Regions from separate parts of the Homo sapiens genome. Here region 2 is linked to region 1. Evidence: fine-mapped expression QTL. Tissue or cell type: tibial artery. Region 1 holds a variant in brackets; the other region holds the start of a gene. All regions are shown on one strand. Distances are from middle to middle.

Region 1 (2,755 bases):
ACTTTCAAAAGGGTATCTTGGATAGATCTACTTCTCAGCCTGTGTCCTGACATGGCAATGGTAGCCTCAAAAGGTGATTGTTAAGGTTAGATGAGACAATGTACGCAAAGAGGGTGTCTGTGTGTTTGCTGGGGGGTGGTTGCTCCCTGGCTTTCCAGGATGTTAGGCCTTCGTCAGTGCACTCGACAGACGGTTACTGTTTGTCAACAGAATGCTTGGCGCTGTTCTAGCTGCTAGGGATAAGACGGAAGGAGCCCAGGAGTTAAATTTTTGAAAATTTTAAATTATGAGGAATACAAGTTTACTGTAGAAAATGAGGAAGTACACATATGCATATAGCAAGCACCTGTGAGCATTTGGAAGCATCCACATGGTTTCAGTTTCGGTGCTTCCCCCCACCTATTCCTCTGCTTAAACAGATGTCCTGCAAGAGTCGTTTCTTGACTGTGTTCGCTAATTTATGTCACAAGCATCGTGTGCGCCATTAGCCATCCGGGATTGTAACGGTGCGCGCGTAGGGACCGGACAGCGGGGCGCGCCGGGGCCGCCTCCCGAGAGCCCTGCGTGACACTGCCCCGTGTCTCCCGCGCAGATAGCGAGCTGGTGCTCCCGGACTGTCTGCGGCCGCGCTCCTTCACCGCCCTGCGGCGGCCGTCGCTGCGGCGCGAGGCGGACGACGCGCGCCTCTCGGTGAGCCTATGCGACCTCAACGTGCCGGGCGCGGACGGCGACGAGGCCGCGCCGGCCGCCGGCTGCCCCATCCCGCAGAACTCACTCAACTCGCAGCACAGCCGCGCGCTGCCGGCGCAGCTCGACGGCGACCTGCGTTTCCACGCCCTGCGCGCCGGCGCGCACGTCCGCATCCTCGACGAGCAGACGGTGGCGCGCGTGGAGCACGGGCGCGACGAGCGCGCGCTCGTCTTCACCAGCCGGCCCGTGCGCGTGGCCGAGACCATCTTCGTCAAGGTCACGCGCTCGGGTGGCGCGCGGCCCGGCGCGCTGTCGTTCGGCGTCACCACGTGCGACCCCGGCACGCTGCGGCCGGCCGACCTGCCTTTCAGCCCTGAGGCCCTGGTGGACCGCAAGGAATTCTGGGCCGTGTGCCGCGTGCCCGGGCCCCTGCACAGCGGCGACATCCTGGGCCTGGTGGTCAACGCCGACGGCGAGCTGCACCTCAGCCACAATGGCGCGGCCGCCGGCATGCAGCTGTGCGTGGACGCCTCGCAGCCGCTTTGGATGCTCTTCGGCCTGCACGGGACCATCACGCAGATCCGCATCCTCGGTGAGTGCCCGCAGCTGCGCCTGGGCGTATGCCTTTCCTGGAGGCGGGGACGATCCGGGTAGGAGACAAAGGGCGAGCTCCCCTTCCTCCAGGCTCATGATGGTGTTGCTAAGGAATCACAGACACCTAAGGTGAGTTCTGGGCGGGACTTGGTCATCTTGTCAGTGGCCCTTATATGTCACCTGGGAGACTCACCTGGGGGGTGAGGCGAGGGAAAG[C/A]GCGGATTATTGAGTTTGATGCCCAGAATCAGATCAACCCATAGTCTCACAGATACATAAACAGTCCAGAAGCACACAACCCACTGACCACTCAAAAATGAGAGGAAAAGGCCAGGTGCGGTGGCTCACGCCTGTAATCTCAGCATTTTGGGAGGCCGAGGCGGGCGAATCATGAGGTCAGGAGATCAAGACCATCCTGGCTAACACGGTGAAACCCCGTCTCTACTAAAAATACAAACAATTAGCGGGGCATGGTGGTGGGCGCCTGTAGTCCCAGCTACTCGGGAGGCTGAGGCAGGAGAATGGCTGAGCCCAGGAGGCGGAGCTTGCAGTGAGCCAAGATCGTGCCACTGCACTCCAGCCTGGGCGACAGAGTGAGACTCCGTCTCAAAAAAAAAAAAAAAAAAAGGTTTCCCCCAGCAGTTAACTTTTTGAGTCTCGGTTACCATTTCTCCAAAATGGAAATAAAGGTCCTCACCTTTAAGGAAGTTTGTGAGTCCAAATGAGAAAAAAAGGTTGGAATGTCAGTAGTCAGGTGGTGCAGGGTGGTGTCTGGTTGGGGGACTCGGGGGAATCCCTGAGCAGGCAGCCTTGGGGGAAGTGGGGCTGCAGAGTTCTGGGCCTGCCTTTTCTCGGGGGCACAGGGTTTGAAAGGACTGGGGGGATGTGCATTGAGTTAAGAAAAGAAGGGAGGAAGATTCTTTATTGGAAGACTTCTCAGAGCCTTTAATATGCACTTTGATTAAGGAGACGGTGATGGTGGTTTTGGTGTAGAGTTTTTCCATACTAATTTGACCGGAAATCTTTTCACAAAGTGTCTCCTGGTACCTTTGTACCCCAGAGTGAGCAGGTATTCATGCTTTCCAAGTGCCGGTCTTTGAACCAGCTCTGTGAGACTGAGCTGGTTTCGTTAGATTTACCTGGAGGACCTATTAAAGTGCAGATTCTTGGACCCCCCCTCCAGAGATTTTAATTCGGTAGACCTTGGACAGGTTCTGGACATCTGAATTGTTTTTCTTTAGTAAGTATGCTTACCCAAGTTTGGAGACCCCTGGGCCTCACAGCCCCTAGCCTAGACCTCAGCCCAGGAGGCTTGATAGATAAGATAATGTGTGTAGATGAGTGAGCATGAGGTAGTTACTCTATGAGATTGGCGTACTGTGTATAGGCACATGTGAGTAACTGAATACACATATGTTAATGCATGTAATGCTGTTGGCTTGTGAGAGCATGAGAAATCATATAAAAAACATTG
Region 2 (2,628 bases), 92 kb before region 1:
GAGAGTAGGAGAGGAAAATAAAGGGTGGTTCAGGAGGCTCTGCCCCCAGGGATCTCAGTGGAGCCTCCTGGCCCACAGTGGGAAGCATGCATTCCACAATTATTTTCTGAGAATCTGTCACATGCCAGGCATTCCCCCAGTGGGTAAGGACACCCTGGTGAACACGACTGACCTGTGCTCTCCCCTCACAGAGCTTATGTTCTAGCAGGGAGGCAGAAGATAAACGAGGAAAGGCTACTTGTAAACAAGTTCCATATAAAAGCTATGATGAAAATAAAATGGAATATTGTGGAAAGTGACTGACAGTGGAGGGGGTCCTTTAGTTGGGGCAGTCAGGGAATGTCAGGACACGAATTGTGCCTAGATAATGAGGAGCTGCCAAATGGAGACTTGGGGGAAGAACCTTTATTACAGAAAAGGATACATGAGATGTCCCCCTGCCCACCCATGTCTTCACTGGACTCTGGATCTGAGTTGCTGAAGCCAGAGCAGGGAGCTAGAGATGACTTAGAGGAGCAGGAAGTCTGATTCCCTGGGGGGAACCTTGGAACATCTTCCATCCCTGATAGACCAGGAGAGATGCCCCGGGTCCAGGAAGGAGAAGAATGACTTCTGTTTCCCTTCCTGAAGGCTTCTTGGTGCAGTGTTGAGCTACAGGAAGGCACTAGCCACATGAGCAGGGCCCTTGCTGAAACCCCCTTCCTCCAGGAAGCCTTCTTTGACTGCCATAGGCTGCAGAGGCTCCTCTCCCCCACCTTGTTATAGCTAACAGAACCACTCAGTTCAGAGCTGGTGGTCTTCTGATGATCTGTCCCGGAGATCTGTTCCCTCAGCTTGGCCAGAGCTCCAGGCTTGTGAGTCTGGTCCGCGGGCATTCAAAGGCCCTCAGTGGCATCTGTGCATCAGTGAGACTGCCCGGGGTTCCTGCTCTGAACCCTTGCCCTAGTGCCCCTAGCCTGGCTGAGAACGGAGGGTCAAGTGCCGGGGTTCTAATCTCAATTACTTTATCCAAGCATCCGCTCGCTCATTTACATGTTTCCCTGGGCTCTCCACTCTGCGCCAGGCCCGGTACCTGGAGCTAGGGAAACCGAACATTAGTGCTGGCTCGCCCGCCCCCGCATCCGGGGAGCTCGGCGTTCTCGCGGCCCTGCTCCCCTTGTTTTCAAGTGCAAGTTCCATGTTTCCGTGCTGGGAATAAGGCCAGCCCCGGGTGCCACCATACTCGCCTGATGTCTTACCCCGACCCGCGCCGCCGAGAGCTTGCGGCTACGGGAACGCGGCGCGCCCCGGGGCCACATCTGGCCTAGCGGGCGCGCGCGTGTCACTAAGACGCTCATTCACCGGCGCAGCTGTCACCATAACAACCGGAGCGAGGGAATCCTGGAGACTGCCGGGGCGGGGGGCGGGGGCGGCGGTCGCAGGAGGGACCCGGCGCGGGCGGGACCGCGGCGGTCGGGGGACACCAGCTGCGTCGGAGCGCCCAGAACGCCCCGCGCTCCGCCGAGCCCCGCTCCACGCAGACCCGCGGGCGGGAGGGAGCCACGCACATCGCCGCCGCGGCCGTCTCCGCGGGGCGGTAACCGAGCCTGCCTCGGAGCCGCCGAACGCCCACGCCAGCGACCCTGACTCTATGGCCCCGGGGGAGCGCGCCGGAGCCGCCGCGCCGCCCACCCCCAGCCGGAACCCTAGCGTCCCGGGGAGCAAGCGGGGAGCCCCGGGCGTCCCCGGCCCCGGCCCAGGGCCCTGCTTGTGGCCCCCGCTCCCGCCACGGGGCATGGGAGGCAGGTAGCCCAGCCTGCGCCAGGACACCCGTGGCGGGCGGAACCCGCCAAGGACCGCGAAGTCCAGAGAAAGGAAGCTGAGGAGCTGCCCGCCCGCCCCCGGCTGCAGCCCCAGCAGGGCCCTCCCCCGGTGGCGCGCACCCGCGCGCGCACACTCGCACACCGCACCTCAGCGCCTGCCCGGCCTCGCCCCCACCCGCGAGCGCCGAACCTCCTGGGGCCGGATGCCATGGGTAACAACTTCTCCAGTATCCCCTCGCTGCCCCGAGGAAACCCGAGCCGCGCGCCGCGGGGCCACCCCCAGAACCTCAAAGGTAGGCTCCCCGGCCGAGCGCTGCTGGAGGACTGGGGCGCAGGTGGAGGGCCAGGGAGGTGTGGTTGGGGAGGGCGGGCAGACGCCACCTGTTGTGCGTGTCTGGAGGCCGGAGATGCACCTCTGGCCGTGGAGTGGGCTGGGGGTGGAGGGCAGCCGGCGATGATGGTGATGGAGGATGGCGTCCCGCGGGGTCTGCGCAGTTCTGTCTGCTGGCACTGGGAACGTCACTGGAGTCCCCTCAGGCCATGGTCTTAGGCGAGCCTGAAGAGATGGGAAAGGATGTTTGCCAGGTCGATAGGGGAGTGGGGAGTGAGGAGGGAAGCTTGGGTCGTCCGTGTCTCCAGGGAGGCACCTCGATGGGTCTCCTTTCCATCGGCCCTAGGGCTGGAGAGACCAGGCTGGGAGCACTAGTTGCATTTCCAATGGGAGGGTTTTAAAAATTCAGGACAGGATTACAGCAGCCTGGAAGAAAGGGTCAGAGCTGCTGGTTCCTGGGGTCCTTTGCAGCCGTTGGGTTTTTGCATCCATTGA

Evidence for each region. PIP is the estimated chance that this variant, and not a neighbour inherited with it, causes the effect.
Region 2: it holds the start of NEURL1, and the variant in region 1 is fine-mapped to the expression of NEURL1 in tibial artery (GTEx, PIP 0.90).

Annotation. Positions count from the first base shown.
Region 1 is chr10:103,583,944-103,586,698 of GRCh38, forward strand. NEURL1 (neuralized E3 ubiquitin protein ligase 1) reads left to right here. Exons shown (of 6, transcript NM_004210.5): 4 at 593-1,282. Among named protein-coding and RNA genes, the nearest start is that of NEURL1-AS1, 68 kb to the left of the region's middle. RefSeq lists a silencer at 471-530. The variant C/A (reference allele first, on the strand shown) is at 1,501.
Region 2 is chr10:103,492,378-103,495,005 of GRCh38, forward strand. It overlaps NEURL1 (neuralized E3 ubiquitin protein ligase 1), which reads left to right and starts at 1,328. Exons shown (of 6, transcript NM_004210.5): 1 at 1,328-2,095. The coding sequence starts at 2,011. NEURL1-AS1 (NEURL1 antisense RNA 1) reads right to left here. Exons shown (of 4, transcript NR_120675.1): 3 at 2,184-2,358. RefSeq lists silencers at 1,537-1,686, 1,697-1,826, 1,907-2,006 and an enhancer at 1,673-2,222.